Linked DNA regions of Homo sapiens. The protein of the gene in region 3 purifies or fractionates together with the protein of the main gene of each other region. This does not show direct contact. Each region holds a gene or a part of one and is shown on either strand. Other genes may lie near its edges.

The links. Proteins that work in one complex are often made in the same cells at the same time.
Region 1: the proteins of AKR7A3 (region 3) and ASAH1 purify together in Homo sapiens (co-immunoprecipitation; 2 studies listed by BioGRID and IntAct, with this or other methods). This does not show direct contact.
Region 2: the proteins of AKR7A3 (region 3) and TRMT11 purify together in Homo sapiens (affinity purification with mass spectrometry; 2 studies listed by BioGRID and IntAct, with this or other methods). This does not show direct contact.

The regions. Positions count from the first base shown.
Region 1 is NC_000008.11:18,060,071-18,067,108, reverse strand, and holds part of ASAH1 (acid ceramidase isoform a preproprotein), read left to right. Parts: intron 1-2,577; coding exon 2,578-2,652; intron 2,653-3,878; coding exon 3,879-3,924; intron 3,925-4,685; coding exon 4,686-4,830; intron 4,831-5,368; coding exon 5,369-5,423; intron 5,424-5,650; coding exon 5,651-5,732; intron 5,733-7,038. UniProt on the Homo sapiens protein: Lysosomal ceramidase that hydrolyzes sphingolipid ceramides into sphingosine and free fatty acids at acidic pH.
Region 2 is NC_000006.12:125,996,539-126,003,576, forward strand, and holds part of TRMT11 (tRNA (guanine(10)-N(2))-methyltransferase TRMT11), read left to right. Parts: intron 1-1,514; coding exon 1,515-1,596; intron 1,597-1,684; coding exon 1,685-1,777; intron 1,778-2,011; coding exon 2,012-2,146; intron 2,147-2,918; coding exon 2,919-3,075; intron 3,076-7,038. UniProt on the Homo sapiens protein: Catalytic subunit of the TRMT11-TRM112 methyltransferase complex, that specifically mediates the S-adenosyl-L-methionine-dependent N(2)-methylation of guanosine nucleotide at position 10 (m2G10) in tRNAs.
Region 3 is NC_000001.11:19,282,035-19,285,770, forward strand, and holds the end of AKR7A3 (aldo-keto reductase family 7 member A3), read right to left. Parts: intron 3,081-3,736; coding exon 2,984-3,080; intron 2,752-2,983; coding exon 2,652-2,751; intron 2,092-2,651; coding exon 1,962-2,091; intron 859-1,961; coding exon 697-858; 3' UTR 539-696; downstream 1-538. UniProt on the Homo sapiens protein: Catalyzes the NADPH-dependent reduction of various carbonyl-containing compounds, including aldehydes, ketones, and toxic products from cellular metabolism or environmental exposure.

The sequences.
Region 1 (7,038 bases), on a different chromosome or scaffold from region 3:
ACAGGTGCACAGGTCTTAGATATACAGCTCAGTGAAGCTTCAGAAATGCATGCATGCATGTAGCCATGACTCAGATCAAGATACGGAAGAGCCCAGCACTCCACGATGCTCCATCATGCCCCTTTGCAGAAAATACTGCCTCCTCCAGTAAACACTATTCTGATGTCACTATAGATTAGTTTTGCCTCTTCGTGAACTTTGTATAAATAGAACTGAACAATATGAACTGTCCTGTGTGATTTCTTGTATTTCATTATGGGTGGTGTGCTATTGTATCAACAGGGTATTTGGGTGGTTTTCAGATTTGTGATATTAACAATAAAGGAATTATAAATATTGTAGTACATTTTGGGGGTGTCTGGGTACTCATTTTCTGGATATATACCTAGGAAGTGAACTGTTGTGTTATAGAGTAATTGTGTGTTTAGCCTTATAGATTCTGCCAAACAGTTTTCCAAAGTGATTCCAGCAGTTGACAATCAGCAGAGTATGAGAGTTTCAGTTTTCTCCTCTTGATAATTCTCCTCTCGATAGTGTCAGTCTTTTTTTTTCCTTTTTTTTTGTTAGTGTCAATCTTTATTTGAGCCTTTTTGTTGAGTGTCGCAGTATCGCATTTTAGTTTCAATTTGCATTTCCTTGATGATTAATGAGATTGAACAGTTTATTGACTTTTTTTTTTTTTTTTTGGTTTTCTTTGTTTCTTTTGGAGAAGGGCTTGTGAAGGTCTTTTGCCCTTTTAAAAATTAGATTGAAGGAATTTTTTACATACTTTGAATATAAGCCCTTTGTCAGATATATGGATTCTGAATATCTGCTCCCAGTCTATGACCTTCATTTTTATTCTCTTACTTTTGTCTTTTGATGAACAGAAATTTTTAATTTTAGTGAAGTCTAATATCTCAGTCTTCTCTTTTATGAGTAGTGCCTTTTGTATCCATTTAAGGAATCTTGGCCTACCCCAAAGTCATATATATATGCTTATATATTTTCTTCTAGATGTTTAATGTTTACTTTTTACATTTAGGCCTATCATCTATTTTGAATTATTTTTGTATATGCTATGACTTATGGGTCAAGCTTCAGGTTTTTCTCATGTGGTATATCCAGTTAGTTAAACAGCATCAATTCAAAAGGCTATCCTTTCCTCAGCAAATTGCAGTGGTGTCTTTGATATAAATATACAATACATATATATATACACACACACACACACACACACACACACAATGTGTATCTGTATATACAATCAGGTGATTGTATATATGTTGTTTTGTTTGGGGAATTAAGTTTCATTTACATATTTGTCTTTTTGTCTTCCCTTATATCAATACTATTTCACCTCAGTTACTAAAGCTTTATAGTAAGTCTTCAAATTAGGTGGTATAATTCTTCCAACTTTGTTTTTCTCAATATTTATTTAAGTTACTGATTTCTCTGAGCAGTATCTTTTATTTTCAGGGAGAAGACCTCACATGCCATTCGTTAAAATTATTCTTAGATATTGATGGTTTGGGAAGCTATTTTTAAAATTTCAATTTAAGCTTTATGGCATGTAACGAAAAATATTTTCCCCACGACCCCAAAAGTTTTATCTTTAAGCTAGCAAAGCAGTAGTGTCATTATTTTAAATAGCCAACAGTACCTTCATTTTATGAGATGATTGAGAATTTGTGAAAATCAGTAGTATTTATCAACAAAAGTGGCTAGTTTTGTGTGCTGCTTCTTTAAAAAACTCATTTAAAAGATAGCATACTGGAAATATGTACTTGCTGCCTTTATGGAAAGCAAGTCTAATTCCTTTATTATGTAAAGAACTCTAGCAACTCAATACCAAATAGAAATACCTTATGGATTAAGAAGAATAACATGATGTATAAGTGGTGTAAATTTATATAATTATTATAAATTATTATAAATGTATAATAAAATAACTAGAATTTCACCAAATTAGAAATTTAATGGAAATAAAATACACATTGGATTTGGGTGAAAAAAACATGTTGAGCTTAACATGTTAATGTTAAATGGGACAGAAATACAATGTGCTGCCTACTTTTGAATTAAATGCTAAATAGCAGTATTATACATTTTGGGAAAATATTCAAAAAATAAAATACCCTAGAATGGAGTTTCTTGGCAGCTCTGTACTAATTTTAATAGTTCTTGAATCTCCTTTTTCACCTTAGAAATTTTAGTCACACTTTAAAAATCTGGGCAAAATATATGTCCAGCAAACAGCCAAGAGCCAGATGTATTAAATGATCATATTTACGCTCCCAAAAGAAAATTCAAAATGAAGCATGTTGATAAACATTTTGGATGTGATGTTGGAGAACAATTGCAACCTGCCCAGATGTTCAGCTCGCCCGAAGGCTGCCTCCTTGGTGACTTGTTTCATCTTGAGTCTAGAGAGTCCAGGCTGGGGAAGAAAACCACCTCCAGCCGGCCGTTCCAGCACAGCCCCACTGGCCAAAGCACACACTCACACAATGAAAACACTGAAACTTTTTCTTAAAACAAATTTTTCTCCCATTGTCATGGTTCTGTATATTAACACAAAATTTTCTTTTCTCATAGGAGAGATTATTTCATTCAATATTTTTTATGAATTATTTACCATTTGTACTTCAATAGTAGCAGAAGACAAAAAAGGTAATTGTGCGCTGAGGGAGGGTGGGCAGCATGAAGCACTACATAAAGAAAAATCTTCTAAATGAAATTAGAACTTCTGAAATTTGGGCTTGCTATGTAAATTCTGTGTATGTTGCATACAGCTTTTTATTTCTTGGTAAAATTTTGTGATTGTACTGAAAATTTTCCTTATTTTCAGACTACTGTACTGCCTATTAAAGTTGATTTCAGACATGCAAAAAACCTGGAAGAAATGTTGCAGGGCTAGAAACATTCTTCTCTTCCTCATAGTTTACTTCTACCCATCTACATGCTTTGATGGAAGTGCTCGCAGGAGGTGCTTCCTTATCTTCGTGTATGTCATGACATCTGTCCTTTTCTTGAGGCCCAGAACACACATTCTCCCATCCTTTCCCAGCCAGGCAACCCAATGGATACCAGCCTCACTTTCCCGTATTTTTCCTGACTGGTTCCCAGAGTACAAAGCACAGGACAACTTCGCTAACTCACCCTGATCTTTGACCTATACTCTGGGTATAAATCTGCCTGTACCTTACCCTTGAGATGTCCTGCTCTAGGGGATGATGCCTGAAGGGAAACATTTGATGAATCACAGTAATTGAGGCTCCGATTTCTGTGTCCTGGTAGAACCATGTGATAGTGAACCAAAACATGACCATTGATTCCTTTTCCCATATTCTGATCTTACCTGGAAACCCGTGCTCTCAGATTTTGTGGGGTTATCTGGCAGATAGACGGTGACAACAGTCCCATCTGGTGAAGGCTTAGGATATTAGGATGTTTCTTACTTCTTATTGTTTGAAGAAACAGTTGTGAATAAAAATTAATCAAAATTAGAGGCCAGGCACAGTGGCTTACACCTGTAATGCCAGCACTTTGCGAGGCCGAGGCGGGCGAATCATCTGAGGTTGGGAGTTTGACACCAGACTGGCCAACATGGTAAAACCCCTTCTCTACTAAAAGAAAAATACAAAAAAAAAAAAAAAGTAGCCAGGTGCGGTCGCACATGTCTGTAATCCCAACTACGTGGAAGGCTGAGGCACAAGAATTGCTTGAACCTGGGAGGCAGAGGTCGCAGTGAGCTGAGATCGCACCACTGCACTCCAGTCTGGCCAACAGAACGAGACTCTGTCTCAAAAATAAATTAATTAATCAAAATTAATTGTCCAGCTTTGATTTAGAATCTTAACTGCTATTACACGTCTCTTCTGTCTACCTTCAAATAGGTCATCTAATACATGGGAGAAACATGGATTTTGGAGTATTTCTTGGGTAAGTAAAGAACAAAGGGTCAGGCATGGTGGTTCACGCCTGTAATCCCAGCTTTTTGGGAGGCTGACACGGGTGGATCACGAGGTCAGGAGTTCAAGACCAGCCTGGCCAAGATGGTGAAACCCCGTCTCTACTAAAAACATAAAAATTAGCCAGGCATGGTGGTGGGCATCTGTAATCCCGGCTACTTGGGAGCCTGAGGCAGAGACTTTTTTGAACCTGCGAGGCGGAGGTTGCAGTGAGCCGAGATCGCGCCACTGCACTGCAGCTTGGGATACAGAGCCAGACTCCATCTCAAAAAAAAAAAAAAAAAAAAGAACACAGAACTGTTTTGGTCTGTAGGAAGAGTAGGTTGTGTTATATTGATGATAAGTAAGTCCCAAGTCACACCCAAAATGTGATCATAAGTGAAGATAAATGGATTGCTTGAGTGCTGAGACAAGAGGGACATGCTCTTCTATTTTATGTGTCCATCTTGACCTTTCTGAAAAAATAAGAATATTGTAATTAGCATTCTATGTTTGAATCTGAGGCTCACTATTTATAAGCTGTGTGATATTGAGAGAGTTACCTGACTTCTCTGAACCTCAATTTTATCATTTGGAAAACAGAATAAATATACCATATTGTAAAGGTCTTGTTAGGATTGATCGTGGTGACTCGGTAAATAAAGCTCCTAGTGTAATGCCTGGCCCTCATCATCATGTTGATCATTACTATCACTGTGTTTCTGAAATGTCACTGAAACATGTCTTTTATAGGTGGAACATAAATAATGATACCTGGGTCATAACTGAGCAACTAAAACCTTTAACAGTGAATTTGGATTTCCAAAGAAACAACAAAACTGTCTTCAAGGCTTCAAGCTTTGCTGGCTATGTGGGCATGTTAACAGGATTCAAACCAGTAAGGAGTCTGTTGTTACATAATTATACAGGTAGCCTTCTGTCCTGTTACCGTTATGTAAAAGTTGAAATCTAAGAATATGAGGACCTAAAGGGAATATGAAGCCCCATTTCACCCCCTTGTACTTCTTGTCACTTCATAGGTATGAGATCTCGTGGTAGAGAAGAGTAGAAAGGAAACGGAGGTTTCTGAGCCTCTTCTGGGATAAAGAGCATGTGGCTGGGTGTCAAGGGCTGGGAGTCACAATCTGATTTCTAGTCCTGGGTCTTCCGCTCACTTAGGCAAGTCAGGCGTTCATTCTCTGCCCTTCAGTTTCCTGTCCAAAAAGCGTTGCCAGTGATACCCCACCTACTTATCTCACATACTAGAATCAAAAATGCTTTGAACTTTTTAAAAAGCCTTTTATGGTTTTGATTTATTTTTGCCTTCCCCATTACCCAAGCTAGGCCTTTATATCCCACTCTGAAGTACAGTGAGCGACAGGGCCTTAAAGCGCATGGTTGATGTTTCTGACTTCGTTGCTTTGTCTTTTTCTCAGGGACTGTTCAGTCTTACACTGAATGAACGTTTCAGTATAAATGGTGGTTATCTGGGTAAGTAGAGCATTCTCAAGTGAAATGGGAATCTCAGAGCTTTTTTATGAGGAAGGCTGGACTGTGCCTTCTGGTTACAAAGTCCAACCTCTTCCGGTTCCCGACTGGTTACAAAGTCTAACCTCTTCTGGTTCCTGACTGGTTATATAGTCCAGCCTCTTCCGGGTCCTGACTGGTTACATAGTGTCACCTCTTCCGGTTCCTGACATTGTGTTCATCTCTTCCAGGTATTCTAGAATGGATTCTGGGAAAGAAAGATGTCATGTGGATAGGGTTCCTCACTAGAACAGTTCTGGAAAATAGCACAAGGTAAAGTGTTTCGTTGCTTTACTATTAAATATTTATTTTAAATTACTCATATTAAAAAATAAAAATATTTGTCAAGCTCCAGCTTAATCCTTTGAGGAACTATTGCAGAATTTCTTAGGTGAACCTCTGACACTCATGTGGAATTACTCATGTTTTCTTCGTGCAGACTGTGTGTTTTATAGCAAATAAATGAATTACTTAAAAAGCACTAGGGATACTGACATTATGAAAGGCACCTATGAATATTTTTGGTGTACAGAAAAAAAATGACCCACACACAAAAGAACAGTCATACAGTAAAATCTTCATTTAAATGGTAGTACAGACCAGGCACAGTGGCTTATGCCTGTAATCCTCACGCTTTGGGTGGCTGAGATAGACAGATGACTTGCACCCAGGGGTTTGAGACCAGTCTGAGCAACATGGCGAAACCCCGTCTCTATAAAAAATACAAAAATTAGCCAGGCATGGTGACACGTGCCTGCCTGTAGTCCCAGCTACTCAGGAGGCTGAGGTGGGAGGATCACCTGAGCCCAAGGAGGTCGAGACTGCAGTGAGCTGGGATCAGTCCACTGCACTTCACCCTGAGTGATAGAGTGAGACTCTGTCTTAAAAAAACAAAATAAATAAATACAAAATGTACTACATATTAACCTGTAAGTTATATCTTGCCTTGGTATAGAAATCTTACAATAGCAAAACTGCCTTTCCTTCATTCAGCCAGCACTGCGTCCAAATAAATGGGCATCAATCCTATTTTTAATACTTCCCAGGGAATAAGATTTAATGTTAGTAGTGTTCTTTGATAACCCACTTCAATTTTTAATAGTCCTAATTTTCAAGAAGGTTTACTTTCTGTTCTCTAAGTCCTACATACTGTAATATTATTTCCCTTTGTTCTGTTGTTGAGTGAAAGGCATGGACAGTAAGGGTGGAAGATGATCTCTTGAGGCCACTTTGTTTCTCCTTCAGATTAGAGGGGCTTCCTAAGATTCCCGCTTCCCATCTCAGTGTTCACCATACAGGGTCAGGGATTGCTTTTCCCAGAGGCATTGCTCACCATCCTTTTTTAGAAAACACATTGTGGCTGGCCATGGTGGCTCATGCCTGTAATCCCAGTACTTTGGGAGGCGAAGGCAAGAGTATCGCTTGTGCCAAGGAGTTCGAGACCAGCCTGGGCAACAGAGTGAGAGCCCATCTCTAAAAATAGAAATAAATAAATAACACATTCCTTAGATACTTGTTTTTCTTTAGTTTCTACAGAGCTAAACATTTCCGTTCTAAGTCATCTAAAAATGTTTCCCAC
Region 2 (7,038 bases), on a different chromosome or scaffold from region 3:
ATCCTCAGTGTTTCTAGACTTTATCATTGGCATCCACTTTTTTTTTCTTTTCTTTCATTTCTTTTTTCTTTATACTGTTGGAAAATTTTCTGTCATCAGATTTGAAAATTAAACTGTATTTTTAACTAGCATCTTAAATATCAAACAGCTTGTGTTATCTTTAAGCTGCTTTTTCTTCCTGAACATTTTGGCAGATTGCTGAAAACTTTCTGTAGAAATTATATTTGCTAATGCAATGCAAATAAGAATTTACATATATCTAGTTTTATTAACATGGTTAGCGATGTTTTATATCATCATATGTAATTGTTGTATTACGGAATTGGACACAACCCAATATTTAGTTAACTTCATCCTATTGAGAACTACCTGCAGCCTTTAATCTTTTACAGTGAAGGTCGTTAACAGGCCTTATTATGAAATAAAAATGACTAGAAAACAGAAACATAACTTTTAAAAAACTCTTTTTGAATAATTGCTTGTTAGGTTTAAAATAGCCACTGGAGTACTAAGAACTTGTATGCTTCTTTCATAACTCTTCTAATTCATATATTTGATTAATGGCACAATTAACAGTTGTATAATATAATTTTTAATTGCTTTTTATTATCTATATATTTTGTGTAGCTGAGGTATACCTTAAGTGATAGCTAAGTGAGATTAATATTATTGTAGAAGCCTTTTCTCTGTAAATTCAATAGAAAAGGAAGAAATCATTTGCAAAGGAAAAAAATTACAATTTAACTGTATCAGAATGAAGATAGACTTTTATAAAAGCATAGATTCAAAACCAACTTAAATTCAAATTTTTCTGTGTTAGAAGGGATTGAAAGTTAATTTATTATTAACATGAAATATTTTGAGCATGCGACAAAAAGGTGAAAAATATAACAAGTACCTAGGAATATGCCTTATTAGACCTCAACATTTTGGGTAAGTTAGTTACTAAAATTGTGTGTGTGTGTCCATACGTGCGCACGCACATGCATGACAGAGTATCACTCTGTTGTCCATGCTGGAGTGCGGTGACATGATCTTGGCTCATTTTAGTCTCAAGTTCCAGGGCTCAGGTGATCCTCCCACCTCAGCCTCCCAAGTAGCTGGGGCTATGGGTGTGTGCCACCATGCCTGGCTGATTTTTTGCCTTTTTTGTAGAGACAAGGTTTTACTATGTTGCCCAGGCTGGTCTTGAACTCCTGGGCTCCAGTGATCCACCCACCTCGGCCTCCCAAGATGCTGGGATTACAGGCGTTAACCACTGTGCCTGGCCAGCTAATTGTTAATAACATTTTTATTTGGTCATTAGTCTTTTTGTATTATGGAGAAGACATTGGGAATAATTGGCTTTTCTGCAGCTTTTTACCCATTTATCTAAAATAACCGATTCATTTATACTTTGCAAAACATAGGCAATAATCAGTGGAGTGTGCATAAAGAACTAGTAAAATGACTGTATGTATTCCTGTGTGAACTAAGTTCTTTACTGAGGTTAGTACCAATCATTTATTTCCTAGGTCTATATTTGAACTATGGGGTCATGGACAATCTCCTGAGGAGCTGTACAGTTCTCTTAAAAACTACCCTGTGGAGAAGATGGTGCGTAGTAAAATGTGGTTTTATATAGGCATGCGTGCAGATTCTGTAGAATTAAAATACTCAAAAAACTGATTTCCTTTTATTTTAGGTTCCATTTCTACATTCGGACTCTACATATAAAATAAAGATTCACACTTTTAATAAGACATTGACACAAGAAGAGAAAATCAAGCGAATAGATGTAAGTAAATTTAGCAAAACAAAAAACCTACATGATGAATGCAGTCTGGCCATTGTTGATATATAGGAATACCTAATGTCTGTGAAGTGTTTATTTTGTACCACATTTTGTGCTAAGTGCTTTTCATGTTTTATTTAATGTTGACTCCAGGCTTACAAGGTAATGTTATTAGATAAGCGCCATTTTTCATTGTAAATTATTATAAGACATCAGCATTTCTTTTGTTTCTTTTAGGCACTTGAATTTCTGCCATTTGAAGGAAAAGTGAATTTAAAGAAACCGCAACATGTATTTTCTGTTTTGGAGGATTATGGTTTAGACCCAAACTGCATCCCTGAGAATCCACATAATATTTATTTTGGTAGATGGGTGAGCAAGTTTTCTTTCTACCTATGTCAGTTTGTTTTTTTGAAAGCTACTTATTAGGCCTTTTGTTGACTCCTATGTAGAACTTTAAAGCAGCTGAAGAGTCAGAACTACTGAATGGATTAAAATTGGTGAAGAGTATGTGATTATGTTTTGTTTTGTGTTTTCCCAGAGATTCTTAAATGAAGTGCAAGAGGCTTGTTAGATATAGGGAGGAGTTGGTATACCTGGAAATGTTGAAACAAGACTTACCAGAACATCTGGACTGTTTTTTTTTTTTTTGTTTGTTTCTTTTTTTTTATAAAGCAGAGAAAACACAGAGTGCTGTGGTAGTTGAGGAATCTCATTTGTGGAGATTCCCAATCTGGGCCTTCCATTCCAAAAGAAATGGAATTACTGTAAAGCAGTTCTGCCGACTTCTCTGAGGCTTTAAATGGGTGATTGGAAGCTGTGAGTGGAAGTTGTGACTTATGTTAGAGATTATTGTTATGTAGGAGAACAAAGAAATGGGCATACCTTAACACCTACCTCTGGAGTAATTGCATTCAAATGCAGTTCATACTTGTTTTGAAAAGAAAAAGTAAATGGAATGACATTAAGCAATAAAAGGCTTTGTTCATAACTACCTCAATTACATTATTTTAAATAAATAAGTTTAGAGCAGTAATAAGTGGAAAGAAGTTCTTATCAGCAAAATACAATGGTCTTATTGTGAGTGATTATCTTAAGTCTATTCTGTATGGCTATACTAACATAAGAAATATCTCTGATTTAGATTGCAGATGGACAGAGAGAGCTTATTGAGTCATACAGTGTCAAAAAGAGACACTTTATTGGAAATACAAGTATGGATGCTGGTTTGTCATTCATTATGGCTAACCATGGAAAAGTGAAAGAAAATGATATTGTCTTTGATCCATTTGTTGGAACAGGTATTTTTATTTAACTTTTAAGCTAGTGTAGAGATGTTGCTTATTTATATTAATGAAGGTCATGGTAATATTTTTGCTAAAAGAGTAAATGGATAATCTTTTAATTGTGTTTGGATAGTGGCCAACAGACAACCACATACTTGTGTAATAGCTAGTATTTAACACTTATGCCACTTCAAAGATGATGCTGATAGAATTGTATGGGTTTTATTCCAGATAAACCACTAGGAGGGAGCATCCATCTAATTTTTTTGTAGCAGAAAAACTTGCAATACCATACATTGTAGAAATGTTGTAAAGCTGTATAGTTTATTTAAATAGGAAAACTCTTGGTGAAAGAAAGACTTGGATGACAAGATCAAAAAAATGTATTCATCCAGTTTAAATGTACTCATACAGTTTAAATTCATAACTGTATATGTGGATGGAGAAAATAGTTAATATATCCTATCTTTGAGTTGGTTTATGGAGGTTTATAAGTAAGTGTGAAATAAGAAAAGTGTCAAAGTATCAATGGGCTAGATAGCCTGGTCACTGTGGCAGTGACCTTGGTTTTTTGTGCATATGATTGGGATAATTTTTTATGGAAGTCCTAAAACTCCATCTGACTCTGTGCAGACTTTTTCCTACTTCCACTCAATTTTGCTGGATCTTGCCCATACCCAGCAAATACTTGTATTTAAATTTGTTTGACCAAGCTCATTGTGGCTCATTTTGTGGTTGGAGCCTGTCCCTGTAGCCATCTTTCCCCTTGGGCAGTGATGATGCAGAGCTAACGTTTATTGAATAGTAAATGTATCAGGTACTATGCTATGCATTCTGATGCTACTATCTAGTTTAATTCTTACAACAACTAACATGGAGATACTTTAAAAATTTGCTTGAGGAAATTATGGCAGAGAGAAAGGTGCAGTGACTTGGCCAAGGTTATACAGTATATTGGTTTCATAGGATTCAAACTCAAGCAGTCCAACTCCAGAGCTCATGCCCTTAACTTTGAGCTGCCTCTCTCTGCATTGGGATCTGCCAACCAGCTATTACACCATGTACTAACTTAAGGAATATGACCACATATGCTTAGGAAGAAGTAGTATCAAGGTCAATAAATTTCTAATTGATGGAATAACTTTCTCTGTTTATTGTTGAGTTAATTCACTGGTGAGTCTTTCTTCTCTGCCAGTTTCTCCATATCACCTACCCTCAGCATACTCTATATTCTTTTCTTCCCCACTCTCATTATCCTAAGTAACTCACCCCAAATTTTAAACTTTTTATTGGAAATAATATCAAACTTTCAGAAAAGCTACAAGAATAAAAGTAGGACAAAGAACATGCATGTATCCTTAACTTAGCTGTTGTTAACATTTGGCCTCATTTGTTTTATCATTTGTTCTATTTGTTTCTATTTACATAATCTTTTCTTTCCTGCATCATTTGAAAGTTGTATCCATCACATCCCTTTACCCTTCAAGTAATTATTTCTCAAGAATGAGGATATATTCTTCTACATAACCACAGTACTGTTTTCAGTGTTAATAGATGTATTAATACAGTACTTTGATATTCATATTTCAGTCTTGCCAGTTTACCCAGTAATATTAATATTTTTGACAGCATCCTTTTCCCTTTCCTGGCTAGGATCAGGTATTATATTTTGTTGTTAATATTTCTTTGATGTCTTTGATTTGGAACACAGCCAAAGTCTTTTTTTCTTTTATGAAATTTGCACTTTTCAAGATGCTATTTCTCTTCCCTTTATTTTTTATCTAATTTTTTCCTCATTTTGGGTTGTTTGATGTCTCCTCAAGATTAGGATTAGGTTATACATTCCCAGCTGGACCACTACATCAGTGACTTTTGTGGCCTTCTCAGGGGTGTGTACATGATGGCCTTCTGCCCTGCATTGGTATTGGTAATTTTTGATCATCTGGTCTAGGTTGTGTTTGATTTTTTTCTGTTCATAATCATAAACAGTACAATTACTGGTGGTTTTATTTTATTTTATTTTTTTTCTTGCTATTAAGCAATCTGTGGAGAGACACATTAAGGCCATGTAGTATTCTATTCCTTATCCAGTCTCCTCTCACCACTCAGGTCGTCAGGTTTAGTAGCCATTGATAATTCTTTCCTGAACCAGTTTTTACTTTGATGGTTTCAAAGGGATGATTTTCCAACTCCAGTGCTCCCTCCACAGTTACAAGTCGACATTCATTATTCTACTGTAAGCAAAAGCCCTTTCCTCTCTTCCATGTATTTGTTTTTCTATTTGTTATTAATATGAACTAATGGGTTCTCCTTTTTAACCCCGATGGTCTATAATTCATTATATTTCTTAATTTTCTTAATTACTTTTGTTCCTCAAATTGTGATTTGCCCAGTGAGAGCTCTTTCACATTGAATCTGTCTTTGTGACATGTTCCTATCCTTTTTTCTTTGGAGTACTTCCTTACTTTCTCTTCTATTTGTTCAAGCTCTGGTATCAGTCATTTTTCCAAGGAATTTTTGTTTCTTTTAGCAGGGAAATGAAATCTGGATTATAGATCCTTTCAGTGGACAAACTAGAAAATATATATGCATATATACACAATATGCATGTAAGTGCATGTGCAAATATACATGTATTTATTCTTATATACTGTGCGTATGCACATACACATGCATATACGTATTTTAGACACTGTGAATTTGCACATATACTATAAATTGCAGTCAATCCTTACAGATTTCCTTTTGACTACCCTATTCTATGTTTATGTGTACCTTCTTCCACAGTGAGAACCCTGATTCCTAGCTACATCAACACATTTACTCTTTTCCTCATTCCTATATCTGAAATGGTTTCACAGTTGTTTTGCTTATGCCACTTAAAAATATCCTGTGAATAAGAGTTCAGGATGTGTTTTCAGTTCTTCACCCTAAGGGGCAGTAAAGTCAAATACTGTGCCTGCTTTTTCCCTTTTCATTTAAAATTCATTTGGGTTCATTTGTTCCAGTTTGCCCTCTGTTTTAGGTTTTTATCTCCTATCCCCCACTCCTTATTGATTTACTTTTATTTTCAAATATGTATAAGATGAACTTGCTTCCAAAAGTCAGAACTACACAAGAAGTGGTACTCAAAGAGATGTCACTTTACCTTTATAACGCTTCCAGCCTGTTCTCCCACCTATCCTAGGTGACTAACTTCATTGTTTTCTAGTTGATTCTTCCTGTTTCTTTTTGTAATGATAATACATTTTCTGATTCATAATGGAATATATACATTTTCTTATTTTCGCTACTTTCTTACACAAAAGGTATCATACTGTGTGTGTTGGTTTTAACTTTGCTTTTTTCACTTAATGGTATTTCCTGGAAATCACTTCCTGTCAGTTCATGGAGCTTATCTTTATTCTGTTTTAGTTTTGCTTCATGAGTGTATGTACCGTAATTTATTCAAACAATCTCCTATAGTTGGACATCGGTAGTTTTCAGTATTTTACAGTTACAAATAATGCTTGAAATGACTAACCTTATGAATATATACCTTTGTAATGTTGGAGATGTAGCTCTAGGGCAAGCTTATCCAACCCGCAGCCCATGGACCACATGTGGCCCAGATGGCTTTGAATGTGGCCTGATACAAACTTGTAAAGTTTCTTAAAACGTTATGAGAATTTTTGCAATTTTTTTTAGCTCACCAGCTATCATTAGTGTTAGTGTATTTTATGTACAGCCCAAGACAATTCTTCTTCGAATGTGGCCCAGGAAAGCCAAAAGATTGGACCCCTCTGTCCTAGGGTAAATTCTTACAAGTAGGATTTCTGGGTTGAAGAGTGTATGCATATGCAGTTTCATTAGATACTGCCAAATTTGTCTCCATTATACTATTTTGGATTCCTACCAACAGTTGTAGGAGAGTCCCTGTTTTTCCACAGTCTCACCAGCAGAGTATATTTCAGGCTTTTGAAGTTTTGCTTGTTCTGT
Region 3 (3,736 bases):
AGTTGATGCTGAAACAAGTTAAGACTTTGGGTGACTATTGGGAAGGGATGACTGTACTTTGCAATGTGAGAAGAACATGACATTTGCGGGGGGGTGGTACTGGTACAATGATATCATCAGGGTATTTTGTCCCCTCCAAATCTCATGTTGCAATGTGATCCCCAATGTTAGAGGTGAGCCTGGTGGGAGGGGTTAGGGTATGGGGGCAAATCCCACATGAATGGCTTGGTGCCATCTGTATAGTAATGAGTGAGTTCCAGCTCTATGAGTTCACACAGGATCTGGTTGTTTAAAAGAGCCTGGAATTTCCTCCCCTGTCTGTCTCTTGCTCCCTCTCTCACCATGTGACACGCTGGCGCCGCTTCCCCCTCTGCCATGACTGTAAGCTTCCTGAGGCCCTCACCAAGAGCAGATGCCGGCACCACACCCCCTTGTACAGACTGCAGAGTGGTGAGCCAAATAAACCTCTTTTCTTTATAAATGACCCAGTCTCAGGTATTCTTTTATAGCAACGCAAACAGACTAACACACAGCACCCTGGGAGTTTTATTCTTCATTTGGTGGTGACTCTTCTATTAGGTTTTTGTCCAAATACTTCCATCCCTAAGAATTTACTGAGGCAGTTCTAAATTAAAGAAAATGTGAGTAACAAAAGATGTTACAGAAGAGCCTTGGGCAGCCTGAGAAACGATGGGCCTAGCGGAAGTAGTTGGGACATTCGTGAGTAACCAAATGCCAGGCTTGATTAAAGGCGTCCACGACAGCCGGCTCCAGGGGCCCTTCCTCTGCCGCTGCCAAGTTCTGCTCCAGCTGCTCCAGGCTGGACATGCCCAGGATGACCGCGTCCCCGTGGGCACCCTGCAAGGGAGACGGCCAGACTTCAACCCTCTTCTGCTGCACAGCGACTCTACTCACAGCCGTCCCAGCCACCTCCCTGCTGAGATTTGGGATCTCTTGTATCCCATATGTCCAGAAAGAACTTAAGGTGCCTTGGATAGCTGTACCCATGTGACGCAAAACCTGTATCCCTTCCCCTACTGCCACACGACGCTTCCAGACAGACCTACATTCACAGCCCAGTTCTGCCCCCCAGCAGCTGTGTAAACGCGGCTAAGTTATTAAACCTCTCTGAGATTCAATCCTCTTTTCTATTTTCAACATGGTTATGGGTGTGAAAAATTATGTAGAGCACTTAGCTCCCATTTATTGAGCACCTACTGTATATATGCCAGACACTATTGCAACATCTAAGGCTGGAGTTGGATATAAGTGAGGAAGACATGAGGCACTGAGAGAGGGAAACTCCAGCTCCCACCAAAAGGATGAGACTAGTGGGCTTTACAGTTAAACCTGTGTTAAAATGTCTGCCCCTTTCATAGCTGGGTGAAACTCAGTTTCCTCGTCAATAACACTGGGATAGTCATTTCATAAAGCTGAAGGAATAATGAAATCCCTGCAATGAAGCTCTCATTACAAAGCCTGGCACTCAGATACCATCAAAGACCAATGAGAAGGCCGAGCGCAGGGGCTCACGCCTATAATCCCAGCACTTTCAGAGGCTGAGGAGGGCGAATTGTCTGAGTTCAGGAATTTGAGACCAGCCTGGGCAACATGGTGAAACCCTGTCTCTACTACAAATACAAACAATTAGCTGGGCATGGTGGCGCACGCCTGTAATCCCAGCTACTGGGGAGGCTGAGACAAGAGAGTTGCTTCGGCCCAAGAGGCAGAAGTTGCAGTGACCCGAGATCATGCCACTGCACTCCAGCCTGGGTGACAGAGTGAGACTCTGTCCCCCCAAAAAAAAAACATAGAAAAAGACCAGTGGGAAGAATGTTTGTGAGAGTTGAAAGAAAGAGAAATTTCAGAGGAATCGATAAACAAATGTTTCAGCCTTCATCTAAAGATATTGCTGGTTCCCCTGGAAGGGAAGAAGCTGAGCGCACAGGGTCACTGGTTACCTGCAGCTGTGAGTGGTGGTACATCCACCGGAGGGTGGCCGAGGTCATGCTGGGGGCGCTGGCGCCATACGCGGCCTGCAGGGCCTTCTCCACCAGGGCAATGCCCTCAAAGTGGTGCTCCTTCCAGTAGCTGGGAAGGGGGGACGGTGGCACAGGTGTCAGGGCCACATTGGGAGCCACAACCAAAGAGCCAACCAGGGCCACTGTCCCACCCCACACCCTGCAGCCCTGAGGGGCAGGTGTTCTCTCTAGCCATGGGTCTCCCACTTTGCTGGGCAAGAGAACCACTCAGGATGCTGGGCCCCTCAGCAGAGACCTCAACAAATCTTTATTCCTGAGGACTCATCAGCCTGCTCTTATTTTCCTTAGGGACACAAAGGCCGCTAAGATGGGTCAGGACTCAGCCCCAGGCCTCCTGGACCTCCCTCCAGAGCTCCTTCTTTCCTTCCTAGCAGGTGATTGCTCAGGAAAGAGCAACGACTTCAAGACCCCGAGGTCCAGGGAGTCTCCTTTCCTCCTGGAGGTCCCAAGACAACAAGAAAACCGATGGAGGGTTTGGAAATTCCCGAAGAAATTCAGGGGAGTAGGTGCAGCAGCGAGGAAAGGCCTTACCCCAGGAGCAGCCCAGGACTTCATTCCACATAAAGCTGACCCCACCCCAGCCATCCACACCAAGCACCCACAGCTTACCGATTCCTGTACATCTCTGCCCAGGTATTCCCAAAGAAGCGGCCCACGGGCTGTTTCCCATTCTTGTCCTCATACTTGTACTTGCCGGTCAGCAGGCCCCCTGAGGGAAAGCAGCAATCAGCCCCGGGGCCTAGAGTGCCCCAGAAGCTGCCACATCCCTCAGGGCTCTGGTCTAGGGGAGGGGCAGGGACCCAGGAGGGCTGAAGATGCAGCCTTTACGTCTTTGACCTCAGAGGTCAAAGTTTGTCAAACCCTCCTTGCTTCCCAGGTCCTGGGCTGGGCATCTGTGGGTCGGGAATAGGCTGAGACAGGGCCAGGAATGCTCCACGTACCAGCCAGAGGGTTGAAGGCATAGAACCTCAGTCCAAAGTGCCTGAGGCAGGGGAAGAGCTCCGTTTCCACCTGCCGGGTGATGGCATTGTACATGCCCTGTAAGGAGAGGGGCCCCGGGGGAGAGGGTGGATGTGTCAAAAGAAGAGACTTCAAAATTACCCTTCCAGAACCCTTATTTCAGACCTTAACAATTCTAGGACTTTAACCGTCTGGGCGTATACTTATTCTAACTGGTGCTGGTGAAAGAAGCTTATGCCCATGGAAAATTCATTCATTCTGCCAACTTTCATGAGCACCAACTATGGGCTGGTTGTCAGATTTAGATTCTTAAGCCAAAAGGACAGGGTCCCTTCCCTCAAGGTTTTATAATAAGGTCAAGTATAAACAGTTATAATCAAGTCATGAGGCAATCATAATAGACTAGAAAGTTCTGTGACCAGTGCCTGGCACCAAGCAGGTGTGCAAATATTTGTGCAATGAATCATGAGGAGGTAAACAAGGACCTGAGGTCTCAGGGTCTTCTGGGCCCATCTAGAAAGGCTTCCAGAGGAAGAGACACGTATGTGAGACCTGAACCATTCTCTCACGGAAGGGGCGGTGGTGGGGGAAGGGCTTGTTCCAGGCTGAGTGCAGGGGAAGGTAGGGAAGGAAGGGTCCAAGGTGCACAGATAGGCAGGAAGGAAGCAGATGCCCAGTGGCCAGCCTGAGGAGCTTGAATGGCATCCTGAGGGTACCTGGGAGCCATCTGCAGG